Regions from separate parts of the Homo sapiens genome. Here all the other regions are reported to be linked to region 2. Evidence: microRNA targets listed by miRTarBase, many of them from high-throughput screens and not tested one by one. Region 2 holds a microRNA gene; each other region holds the end of a gene's coding sequence. Distances are between the middles of the regions.
What was found. Region 2 holds the annotated microRNA hsa-miR-205-3p (GAUUUCAGUGGAGUGAAGUUC, at 1,806-1,826, shown strand). A microRNA usually pairs through its seed, bases 2 to 8, with sites in the 3' UTR of a target mRNA and lowers its output. Matches are read on the target gene's strand: a 7mer-m8 pairs with bases 2 to 8, a 7mer-A1 pairs with bases 2 to 7 and ends in A, and an 8mer does both.

Region 1 (3,145 bases), not on the chromosome of region 2:
GTACCCGAAGAACAAAGTAGGGCAGTGGTACCATGACATACTTAGCAGAGATGGACTACAGACATGTAGGTTTAAAGTACCTACTCTGAAACTGAATATACCAGGTTGCTATAGACAGATTTTGAAACATCCCTGTAATCTCTCATACCAACTAATGGAAGATCATGACATTGATGTCAAAACGAAAGGTTCCCACATTGATGAAACAGCTTTGTCTCTTTTGATCTCTTTTGATCTTGATGCTTCATGCTATGCTACCGTTTGTCTGAAGGAAATAATGAAGCATGACGTTTAAAACTGATACCCTTGGTATAACCATATATATGTCACTCTTTGAAGGAAAGGGGGCTAAAATGTCTTAAGCACCTTCCATGTGTTAGGAACTTCATAATTGTTATCTCTTTTAATTTTCACAGCATCCTGAGAAGTTAGGATTTGATACTGTAATTTTATAGAGGATATGTAAGTGTCAGGGTCCAAATTTAAGGTCCATGTGACCCCAAAGCCTGTGTTTTTTTTCTATTATATGTTTCAGTGACCTTTATTCTGTGTCATAAAGTTACAATCTTTTAAAACCATTAGGAATATATATAATACTGCAAGATAACATTTAAGAAAAAAAGTTGTGAATATTCATATCCTCCAGCTCCTTGCTTAGAACACTAGTAAAATTAGGTCGCAGTGAAGCAAATGTTGGAGAGAAAGATAGATGAAGCATTTTGCTAATTATTATTGTCCCCCTTTCCTGTTTTTGAAATTATTGATCAGAACAATATACAAGGGAAATGCCATACCTCTGTTTGTGATAGATACCCCAGAGTAGTTATTACCTCTTTGTGAGATAAGTAATCTTTGATGAAGATTGAAATACAATTTCTCATCCAATTTTTATATCTTGGCATACGCTGACCCTCTTGACCATTTGTAATTTTTTCATATTATCTAAAACAGGTGTTAGAGTCAGACAGATTCATTCTTAGATTCTAGCTCTGACACTTACTAGTGATTTTGAGTATGTTGTTGATTTTTTTGTGTGTGGTTACTGATAGAATCAAGACAATTACAACTTCATAAATGACAAATAATAGGATTATCTCCACATTTTCTGTTGCTGGAGGAACAAAACATTGTGCCCATTTGAAAATTTTAATTTTTGTTGGTTTAACTATCCCACATTATAAATCATCCTTCACCATTTTATATCAGTTAAATATGGGTGTGTTGGGGAGGAATGACTGGCATGTAGACATGTATTGATTTAGGAAGATCTGAGCATTTCTTTCATTGTTGGTAAGATATAATGATGAAATTTAAAAAGCAGTATGGAGCATTATATATCAGTAATGTGATATATATACTTAAGCCAGTTTAACCATTTTGGGAAATGTTAGCATTAGGAAATAAAATCCAAAAGAAGGAAGAGAAGCTATATGCAATGCAAAATTTGCTTATTGCAATATTTTCATATACAGACACTAAAAACAGTTTTCAAAGTCCAGCATTACGTAACTAAAGTAAGTAAAATGATGTGTATCAACTTGATGGTAAAATATGTAGTTATTTAAAAAAGCAATGAACAATTTAGTTTCATGAGAAAATGTTGCCCCCTAAAAGTAGAACACATATGTTACAACTGCAATAATACTCTGAATTCATCTTTCACAAATAAGAGACATGTTAGCATAGTGATTAAAAGCACAGATATTGGAGACAAACTAACCCAGTTTGAACCCTGGCACTGCCACGTATAGCACTGCAGCCTTGGGAAAGTTATTTAAACTCATGGGCTTCAGTTTCAACATCTGTAAAATGGGCATGTTAACATTGCCTACCTCATAGGATTACTGTGAGAATTTTCTAAGTTAATATATGTAAAGCAACTTTAAAAAGTGCCTGGCACTTAGTTATTGTTAAGTAAGTGTCTGCAGATGCAAGTTTGGAAGAGAAAAGCAAATAAATGAAAATCCCTTCCTGTTAAGATGATGGGGTATTTGGATTTTTTTTAATACTAAAAAGTTTTTTTTGTTATATGTTTTGGCAATAAATAATTCTCAATACACAAAATTGGATATTGTAGTACCATTGATTTTCTTTGGATTACTGCCATCATTTTAATGTTATATTGAGAATGAAGTGATCCTCTATTAGGTAGTAAAAAAAATTTAGAAAAAATGTTTTATTTTATATGATAAATCGTATCCTATAAATGTAATCATAAAATGAGTTATATACATTATTAAATCCTAGTTTTTAAAAGTTTTGAATAGCAATCAGAAAATACGAAAGCATGAAAATATATCATTGATTTTACTTTTTTTGCCTGCAGATGGCACTATAATTTTAGACATTTATTGATTTATTTAGTAAATACTTCAGCAGTGTATAAAGGAACACTAAGTTTATTTCATCACCATAAAATGTATTGAGATATCATTCATGTGGAATATTATTTTATATGCCAATAAGATGCCATGTTAAACTTTTTTTGTTTAAGGACTTTTATTATTAATAGTATGCTTTGGACCAACTGATGACTAGTCACTTAGGTTTTTGCAGTTTTGCTGGGGCATTTCAGACCTTCATAAGCATGATCTTTGGATTAGTTTTTTTTTTTTCTTCACCTCATTATTAGGAGTTAATTTATTTTTAAAGTGTCATCTTAAACTGCAAGGATGTCCTTTAAACATCACATGCCAATTAAACATGCCGAAGGAGAAGCTGTGTCATCAAAATGCCCACTTAACCTACCCAAACATCTCAAACCTACCCTTTGCTGACCTTCTATAGCCCCATTTCCAAAGTTTTGCTTTATTTTTATTTTTTCTTCCAACTTTTATTTTAGGTTTAGGGGTACATGTGCAGGTTTGTTACATGGGTAAATTGCATTTTGTGGGAGTTCTGCATACAAATTATTTAATCACCCAGATAATGAGCATAGTACCTGATAGGTTGTTTTTCTATCCTCATCTTTCTCCCACCCTCCACCCTCAAGTAGGCCATGGTGCCTATTGTTCCCTTCTTAGAGTCCAAGTGTACTCAAAGTTCAGCTCCCACTTATGAGTAAGAACATTTGGTATTTGGTTTTCTGTTCCTGCATTAATTTGCTTACAATAATGGCCTCCAGCTACATCCATGTTGCTGGAAA
Region 2 (3,145 bases):
ATGCCACCTCCCATTTGCTTTTTGCAGACACTGTCATCTCTCAAGTACCCATCTTGGAGGGTACGGACCCCACATGAGGGTGAGGCTCTCTGCACACTCCAGAGTGAGGACTTTAATAATCTAGTGGACTGTACATGTTGGGAGGGGAAGAGCGGGGTGCCGAGGGTCTGGAGGGAGAAGAATTGACTGCCCCTTTTGCTCTTGGAGTTAAGCAGAAATCTAAAGAGAAGGCAAAGAATCTTGCCTTCCTGGCATCATTTCCTCCTACCATCCCAGGCCATCATTTATTTATTACAGCCAACAGACTGGCCTCTTTCTTCCCTTTGACTGGGAATGGGTCAAAGGCGGTGCAGGAGGAGGATCTGGTCCAGATAATTCACAAGCAGGGTGCATTTTCCTCTCATTATTGAGAACTGTGAGTGTTTATCAAGAAGGCAGAGCAGGAGAAGATGAACCAGTCTTCTTCCCCTCACTACCCAGATCTCTGCCTGCCAACAAGCCCCGTGTTCACCCTGGCAAAGAGTCTTTACATTCAGACCAAGGAGAGTGTGACTCCTTCTCAGCACTAGCTAGAAACCTCAAGCCCTTGCTTAAGGGCCTTTTTCAGAGAGACCCAATGCCCAGAAGGCTAGATGCGTGGGGAGGAGCCACATACGAGAAACTGCCTCCCTGCTTCGGGTCAGAACAAGCCCCAGGAAGAAAGTATTTCAAACAACAAGGTGCATCTGCCCCAACCCATCCAGCCTGCATGTTGGTGCTGAGAACAGCCTTTTATGGGGCTTGCACTGAGCCATGGGCATGTCTGAACACAACAAGGAAGAGGCCAGAGCAGCAACAGCACGCAAAGGGTTGATGGGCATTTCTTTTAAGACAGAGCAGAAAACTCTTAGATACTTTGCGTCCTTCCTATTTGACTCAGTCTATGAAAGCCAGGTTAGCTTGCTTTCTTCCTCCCTAAATCCTCCATCCTCATGACCAACAAAGAAATAGTTGAATCATTTTCCAGGCACATCTTGGGGAGGATGTGGGGCCATTGGAGGCTGTCCTTCCTAGATAAGTCTTTAGGAGTGAGAACAAGGAGTCTTACCCTCCTCTGTCCACCCACCCCCATGAATGGGCCTGGCTCCAGCCAGGAGTTGTGGTTTTTCCTGAGCTCCTCACCTATCTCTTCTGGATTTCACATTGGCAAACGGGGTTGCAAAGTGCTCTTCGTGCTCTTTGGACAGTGCCTTGTGGAGAGGAATGCCCATGCCCCTGCATTCCAAGGCCTTGGTAAGCAAGCTCAGAGTAGCTGGATTTTTCTAAAGCAATTGCAGAACACCTGCTTTTTCTTTGTTTCCTCTAGAAAGGACCAACCACACCGAGCTCAGTTATGGCACACACAGTGGGACCTAGACAAAGGGAGAGGGTGACCGACATCCCAACTAGGTAAACACAGAGGAGGTTCCACATGGACTTATCTGGGTGGCTGTTTTGAAAACGAGAAACAGTCAAGAGTCCCTGGCCCCACAGACCCACCTCCCCAACTCAGCACTGTCTGTCTGTGCAGCAGGTGCAAGGACGTGTTGAACTAGCTCTCTGCAGCCTCCTTGGAGGATGTGATCCTATGGGAGGGGTAGGAGTATTCAGGTCCTTGACATCTCCCAAATGTGTGATTCCGGGATGCCAAAGGCCTTTGGCCAGGTAATGCAGTGTCTACAGGCTGAGGTTGACATGCATCCCCACCCTCTGAGAAAAAGATCCTCAGACAATCCATGTGCTTCTCTTGTCCTTCATTCCACCGGAGTCTGTCTCATACCCAACCAGATTTCAGTGGAGTGAAGTTCAGGAGGCATGGAGCTGACAACCATGAGGCCTCGGCAGCCACCGCCACCACCGCCGCCGCCACCACCGTAGCAGCAGCAGCAGCAGCAGCAGCAGCAGCAGCAGCAGCAAGAGTAACTCTGACTTAGGAATAGAGACAGCCAGAGAGAAATGTGATCAATGAAGGAGACATCTGGAGTGTGCGTGCTTCTTCAGAGGGACGGGTGATGGGCAGATTGGAAAAAGCACCGCAGATGGGAACCTTAATCTTTCTTTTCTAAAATTGATGCTATGAAAATTTGCGTTTTCTGTAACTTGTAAAAACTAAAAGTTGCTTGTCTACTGAAAAGCCTCTCTGCCTCTATGTTTTATACCATCGGATGCCAACTCCCGGCCTTCTAAGCCACCTCCCCTTTAGGCTAAAACTGAGACATGAACTTGAAAAATTGACACTGGCTTCCTCTCTCTTTAGGGTCCCCAGGCAGGTGGCTGGGACACTATTTGCAATCAGCAAGGAACCCTGCTGCCCTTAGACTCCCCACAGAGCAAGCAGAACTTGCAGAATGGGGTAAAAACACTCTATTAAAGATTTTTTAAACCTATTTATATTGTAATAAAGTAAATGTAAATAAAATTTAAGTGAAGGCAGATTGCAGATATTTCCGATGCTATACAAGATATATCTCATAGTATGGGTGTAGATTCTGCAAAGGTTAATGCAGTTAAACATATTTGACACATAAAAATGTCAGATCCAACATTAATCATTCACCAATTGTAATTGCCTTTCTATGGGTCTCTTCTCCCCAAGACATAGCTTAAAACACCAGGCTCGGTAGAAATCTGGGAGGAAAAAAGCAAATAATACCTCTCAGCTGTCAGGGTCTATGATACGCTTTGATAGATTTAGCACTGATTTCATTCTCTTTACAATTCAGTGTGATTGGGTGTGCGTGTGTGTGTGTGTGTGTGTGTGTGTGTGTGTGTGTGTTACTCCATGTTTCTCCTTTTTAAGGAAGGAGAAGGTGTGGAACAAGAGAAAGTTCCTAAGTCTGAAGGAAGTCCAACCCAGTTATGAAGGGAATGCCATCCACAAGCCTTTTTTATAATTGGCCCCTGCCTCAGGTAAAGGGGTCTCCTTTAAGGAGCCAGTCTGGCTAAATTGGCAGATTCTGAACAAAGCCTGGCCCTGACAAGTCTTCAGAAAAACCGGTTTTCACCTCCAGAATGTGCCCCAGGCAGCAAAATACAATAGCTCTCCTTGGCTGAGTGGTGTTTTTCTTAGGAGCTCACTCTAAAGGAGATTCCAGCTTTGCAGATGGATACCGATCACTTGAATGGC
Region 3 (3,138 bases), not on the chromosome of region 2:
AGCAGATCCCAGGAGTTGGAAAAGTTAAAGCTCCCCTTCTCCTCCAGAAGTTTCCAAGCATCCAGCAACTGAGTAATGCTTCCATTGGGGAACTGGAGCAGGTGGTCGGACAAGCAGTGGCACAGCAGATCCATGCCTTCTTCACGCAGCCCAGGTGAGGGCTGGCCTCAGGGCCACGGCATCTTCTCCTGAGACCACAAACACCAGGATCTTGTTTTCAGCTTTAAAAACCAAGAGAATGGGCCGGGTGCACTGGCTCACGCCTCTAATCTCAGCACTTTGGGAGGCCGAAGACAGCGGATCATCTGAGGTCAGGAGTTCAAGACCAGCCTGGCCAACATGGAGAAACCCCTAAAAATAGGAACAATTAGCCAGGCATGGTGACAGGTGCCTGTAATCCCAGCTACTTGGGAGGCCGAGGCATGAGAATCACTTGAACCCGGGAGGCGGAGGTTGCAGTGAGCTGAGATCGTGCCACTGCACTCCAGCCTGGGCACCAGAGCGAGACTCCGTCTCAAAGAAAACAACAAAAAAAAAAAAAAAAGAAAAAGGATTTTCTCCAGCAGCAACCAGTGAAAGATGAGGCGAGGCTTGAATGGAGCCCGTGGGTCGTCCTGCCTTAGCGTCTGAGTTCAGCTTGTGAAGTTAGTGGGCCGCAGAGGGCACTGCCTTCATTCTGCTAAGACGAAAAGGGCTGGTGGGATCTTCGCAAGAGAGTCAGGGACTCACACTCAGCAAAAAGCATTAGGGCCGATTTTAATGTGCGACCTTGACCTGCATCTGTCATGGAAAGTGCCTTCTAAAAAGCTTCAGTGGTGGATGTGACCATCTGAAGGAAACAAATGTACAAGGAAGCACTGTGTATCCTAAGCCCTGGGTTCCCAGAGTTTCACCTGCTGTTCATCAGGTCTGGCCTTCATATACCCGTACTGCGAGGGCTGTTTCCAATGTAAATAAATAACTGCGCAACAGTTCCTTCCTCCTTTCCTTTGTTCCTCCCTCCCCCCGGCCTTTTTTTTTGGCAGATGTACAGTTTGTTTATAATCACTGCATATGTCTTCTGCACACAGAAAGTATGAAGTCTGAAGTTCCCACTTAAAGTTGAAAACTCAACGGCCGGGCATAGTGGCTCACACCTGTAATCCCAGCACTTTGGGAGGCCAAGGGGGGTGAATCACAAGGTCAGGAGATCCAGACCATCCTGGCCGACATGGTGAAGCCCTGTCTCTACTAAAAATACAAAAATTAGCTGGGTGTGGTGGCACACACCTGTAATCCCAACTACTCAGGAGACTGAGGCACGAGAATCGCTTGAACCCAGGAGGTGGAGGTTGCAATGGGCCGAGATTGCACCACTGCACTCCAGCCTGGATGACAGAGTGAGACTCCATCTCAAAAAAAAAAAAAAAAAATTTAAAGTTGAAAACTCAACATGCATGAGGCAGAACAGGCTGTGTTTGTATATGAAAGGCCCAACAATGGAAGGATACAAGAAAATGATGGCAGCAGCTGCATCTAGTGAGGGAAGCAGGGGCTGGGGATCAAAAGGTACAAATTGCCCATTCAAAAAATAGACACAGGCCAGGCACAGTGGCTCACACCTGTAGTCCCAGCACTTTGGGAGGCTGAGGTGGGAGGATTGCTTGAGTCCAGGATTTCGAGATCAGCCTGGGCAACATGGCAAGACCCCATCTCTACAAAAAAATCAAAAAAATTAGCCAGGCATGGTGGCTCATGCCTGTAGTCCCAGCTACTCAGGAGGGTGAGGTGGGAGGATTGCTTGAGCCCGGAAGGTTGAGGCTGCCATGAGCCACAATTGCGCCACTGTCCTCCTGCCTGGGTGACAAAGCGAGACCCTGTCTTGAAAAAAAGACAAAAACAAAAAATAAGCACAAAGATACCATCTGTCTTAGAAAATACTAAGATAACTTGACAGCTTTTTAAGTTCTGCTTTGTGAAATGTTAGTAACTAAAAAAATCAGAACATTAGAAACTGTGTGCATTGGGGAGAAACAATTTGAAAGAGGAGGGAATGAAAATGAAATAAAAGTAAAAAGAAATATTAACTCGGGTAAATGAATATGTTTATTTAAATATGTATACAAGCATGGCCCTAGGAGCAGCAGATACACTTTCCCAAAGGTGGTTGCTTCCTTTAAGATATTGCACAATAGAAAATAAACTCTTGTCAATCCTTAAAATTAGTCTTCAATGCTATGTATTTTAGCTATGTAACTTGTACTGTGTCAACAGTGAACCTTATTAGATTCACGGTGTCATCGAACTTATAGCAAGATAAAAATCAATCAGTAGGAATGTCATTTTAAAAAGTAAAATAGTGGGACGGTTGTGGTGGCTCATGCCTGTAATCCCAGCACTTTGGGAGGCTGAGGTGGGTGGATCATTTGAGGTCAGGATTTCGAAACCCGCCTGGCCAACATGGTGAAACCTCACCTCAACTAAAAATACAAAAATCAGCCAGGCATGCTGGAGGGCACCTTGTAGTCCCAGCTATTTGGGAGGCTGAGGTAGGAGAATCGCTTGATCCCAGGGGGCGGAGGTTGCACTGAGCTGAGATCACACCACTGCACTCCAGCCTGGGCAACACAGCAAGACGCTATCTCAAACAAAAAAAGGAAGTCAAATAGAGCTTTAAACCTGAATCATTTACATCTTTACTTTATAAAATGTAAAACTACTTTTTTACCCAAGACTTAAAATATAGAATTATGTAACTTCTACTTTAAACAAAATGAAAAATGTTTTGAGTATCAAACAGTATATTATCTACCTTGTAGACAGCATCTTCATCTAACACTGCCACTGTGTTAGTAATTCTTAAATGACATCAAACTAGAAGAAAAGCTGCTCCTACATTGTTTTTATTTAATAAGACAAATTTGGCACTAGACTTTTTCTAGAAATAGCATTCATAGTCTATCGATATAATAGTAACATCTTGTTTTAGGTTAATGAATTCCTATTAGGAAGCAGCACTTTGGGACAGTTTTTAGTGACACTAATTTAATTCTATCATTACAGTCCTCTGACCTGCCTTAATTCCAGGATCATCTGAATTCTAGGTTAAGGAATGATTATTAGCCAAACCTGGAAACAACTACAAATTGTACTGATATA
Region 4 (3,000 bases), 190 Mb from region 2:
CAGGGCCCACTGACATTAACTGAAAAAAGCATGTGGTGGAGAGGCAGGCAGGCAGGCAGGCAGGCCGGACCCAGGAACCAGCCCAGGAGGCAGGCCCATCACACTCTGGCTTTCCCTCTCCTACCCACCTGCCCCAAGTCCTCACTCCCAAGAGGAGAGCAGATATTAAAAGCCAGCCAGAAGGGACTCTCAGGCCAGGATCTCTTTCTGGCTCCTGCAGTTTTCAAACTCCCTAGAGTACCCTAGTCCTCAAAGACAAATGACCTATGTATACAAGGAGGAAAGTAAAAATAATACCGCCGGACACCGATAACCACAGTAACCTTAGTTACTCCCATGCTAACACTGCTGCCTTACAGTCTTAAGTCTAAAGATATATCTGTCACCCTCCCACCACCTTGGGGAACAACCCAGGGCCGGCTTCCACGCTGCCCACGAAACTCCCATACCACATTGTCCAATGCCTCCCTCGGCCCTGGACGGAGGAGACCCACGAGGGTGGATGTTTTCCTGCCCTCGAGGAAACGGAAAATCTTTTTAGCAGCTGAGGTCCAAGCCCAACTGGCTCTGATAACCTTTGGTTAAAATAAAAATTCAACAACAATAACAACAAGAATCAGGTATGTTTGAACCCTGTAACCTTTAGAACAAGGGTGAGTGAGGAGAGAGAAGGGCCGTCTCTCTTCCAAAACCATTGTCCCTCCAAGTACCTGTCAAAGGGAACTGTTTGGCTAACAAGAGATGCTGACTATGGAAGTGTCACAGCCAGACTGCCACAGGGGACCCGTGGGAGGTGCCCCCAGCAAAAGAAAACAAAGGAAAAAACTCATGACGAAGGCCACCAAATCGTGATAAATTACATCACACATAGTCACTAACACATTCTCACGCTCTCTCTCTCTCTCTACATATATCTTTTATGTACAGTATTTTTAAGACTGTAACACAGGTGGGGGAAACAGAAAAGAGAGAAGAGCCTTAAAGGCCACGGACCCCTGGGGACCACAATCCCAGTCAAACCCAGAGCCCCCTCCTTCTGCCTCCAGGCAAGGCAGAGGGACCCAAGTTCTAGTCCTTGGGCACATTTTGCTACCTTGACCACTAGAGGGAGCTCCTGGGACAATAAAAAATTAAAATTGGCAACAGACCCACTGCAGTAGGCTTAAAAAATAATAATAAAGCAAAGCCTGCTCAGCTGGCTCCAAGCTGAGATTTGGAAGGGGGCCACACAGTGCCCTTCAACGCAGTCCCACTCAAGCCATTCAAGTCTTGGGGGATGCTGGCTCAGATCAATACCCCGACTGGCCAGTCGAGGGAACTGCTGAGAGCGGCTTGCGTGTGTCGAGGAGCAGAAAGAGGATGGCCCTCACTCCAGCTCCTGCACTGCCAGCAGCCCACCCTGCTTCTCTCCTGCCAGCAGCCAAAAGCAGGCAACTGCCGGACAGTCCTAACCCAAGGCGGGTAGAAGGGAGCAGAGACCAGGCCTGGCCCCTTCAGACTTTCTCACAGAGAAATTACAGATCTCTAAGCCTCTATTGTTGGCTGGCGAGGGAGGGAAGAACATCAAGTTATCAGGGAAATCAAGGATCCCTCCGCCCCCGCCCTGAACCCAGAGGTCCGGAAGGAAGCAAGCGGTCAGGGAGGCCAGTGCCTTGCGGGAACCCCAGCCTCATGACCAACCTCGGCCAAACCCACACTACCCAGTCAGTGCTGCCACACAGATCACCCTAACCCCGGCCTCTCTCCCAGCTCCAGGGGGAAGCCAGGAGCCCAGGAGAGGTCCTGCCTTCCACAATGATATAAGGCAAGCTGCTTTTGTTGTTTGTTTTGTTTTTTGCATAGTAGTTTAAACACAGTGAGGCTCTGCCTTCCCCTCACAGTGCCTTGTCCCTTCAACTTTGCCACTCGATCCCCCCAAAAAATTAAAATGTGTCCTCCTTCCCTTCCTTCCACCTTTCTCTCCTTCAGGGAGTGAGAAAATTGGGGTGGTCCCTACCCAGGCCTAGAAAGCTCACAGAGGCAAGCGGCTCCTTCCTGGGGGTTGGCAGAGCACCCCAAGCTCCAGGCCGAGTCTGGGCTGGCTCAGGAGGAAGGGAGGGCATAGCCCATGGCCAATCAGAGGAGCAGGTGGGACGGACGGCAGAAACCACATTACACCACGGCCGGTTGGCCCGGCCCTCAGCTTAGAGTTCTGTATAAAAACACCTGCTAGGAATAATTCTTTGGAGCTCAAAGTGGCTCAGCTTAAGGGAGAAGGCACAGTTAACACTGCAAAGTCCGCACAGAAGTCTGCATTTGTAATGTGGAGAACAATAGAAATTGACAGCACCATTCCTTGGGTGGGTGGGGGATGGAGACGGGGCACCCGTTGGTGGTGTGGAAGGAAGGAAGGAAGCAGCAGTCCCTCAGGGCCTCCAGAGAAGGGAGGGCAGAGAAAGTCTGTGTGGTGTGGCTTCGAACCCCACTCCGAGGGGCCTTCCTGGCCCCATGAGGAGAGGTGGCAGGGCCCCATCACCAAGACCACCAGGCTCGCAGGGCCTCAGTCATCAGCTGACCATGGGCTCCACATCCGCCTCGCGCTCGAACTCATCCTGGATCTCATCTGTACTTCCTGAGTCGCTGCTGGCCACGGAGCTGGGGGACGGTGAATTCCTGAGAAGCACAAGAGAGTGGGGAAATTCAGAGAGCAGCCCTGGGCCTCTGAAGGGTCAAGGAGTGGGAAGGCTGAGCTGCCACTTCTATAAGATCTACTCTCAGAGGGGCCTGGTCCTGAGCTCCTGCCTCACTCAGCTATCCTTAAGATCCTTTAAGCTCACGAGGTAACCCCCTGCACCAGCCCCTACTTGGTCTGGCTGTGTTGGCTTCTCTAGGAAGAAAGCCCCTTGGGAGCTGGACCGTGGATCAAGTTTGGCTGTTACTCTCCAAGCACCTAACCCATGTCTGGGCATATAGTAGGTGCTAAGTAAAACCTGAATGACTCAGAGCTCAAAAGGAGGCCAT

Region 1: miRTarBase lists PUS7L as a target of hsa-miR-205-3p. Seed matches in the 3' UTR shown: 7mer-A1 at 864-870.
Region 3: miRTarBase lists FAAP24 as a target of hsa-miR-205-3p. The part of its 3' UTR that is shown has no 7-base or 8-base seed match.
Region 4: the mRNA of IFFO2 is a reported target of hsa-miR-205-3p. The part of its 3' UTR that is shown has no 7-base or 8-base seed match.

What each region holds. Positions count from the first base shown.
Region 1 is chr12:43,727,526-43,730,670 of GRCh38, reverse strand. It overlaps PUS7L (pseudouridine synthase 7 like), which reads left to right. Exons shown (of 9, transcript NM_031292.5): 9 at 1-3,145. The coding sequence ends at 295. Among named protein-coding and RNA genes, the nearest start is that of PUS7L, 30 kb to the left of the region's middle.
Region 2 is chr1:209,430,398-209,433,542 of GRCh38, forward strand. It overlaps MIR205 (microRNA 205), which reads left to right and starts at 1,736; the gene lies at 1,736-1,845. It overlaps MIR205HG (MIR205 host gene), which reads left to right. Exons shown (of 4, transcript NR_145437.1): 3 at 28-79; 4 at 1,807-2,152. RefSeq lists an enhancer at 2,577-3,145.
Region 3 is chr19:32,976,525-32,979,662 of GRCh38, forward strand. FAAP24 (FA core complex associated protein 24) reads left to right here. Exons shown (of 5, transcript NM_152266.5): 5 at 1-1,705. The coding sequence ends at 158. RHPN2 (rhophilin Rho GTPase binding protein 2) reads right to left here. Exons shown (of 15, transcript NM_033103.5): 15 at 2,068-3,138. Among named protein-coding and RNA genes, the nearest start is that of FAAP24, 5.9 kb to the left of the region's middle.
Region 4 is chr1:18,906,015-18,909,014 of GRCh38, forward strand. IFFO2 (intermediate filament family orphan 2) reads right to left here. Exons shown (of 9, transcript NM_001136265.2): 9 at 1-2,652. The coding sequence ends at 2,547. Among named protein-coding and RNA genes, the nearest start is that of ALDH4A1, 5.0 kb to the left of the region's middle.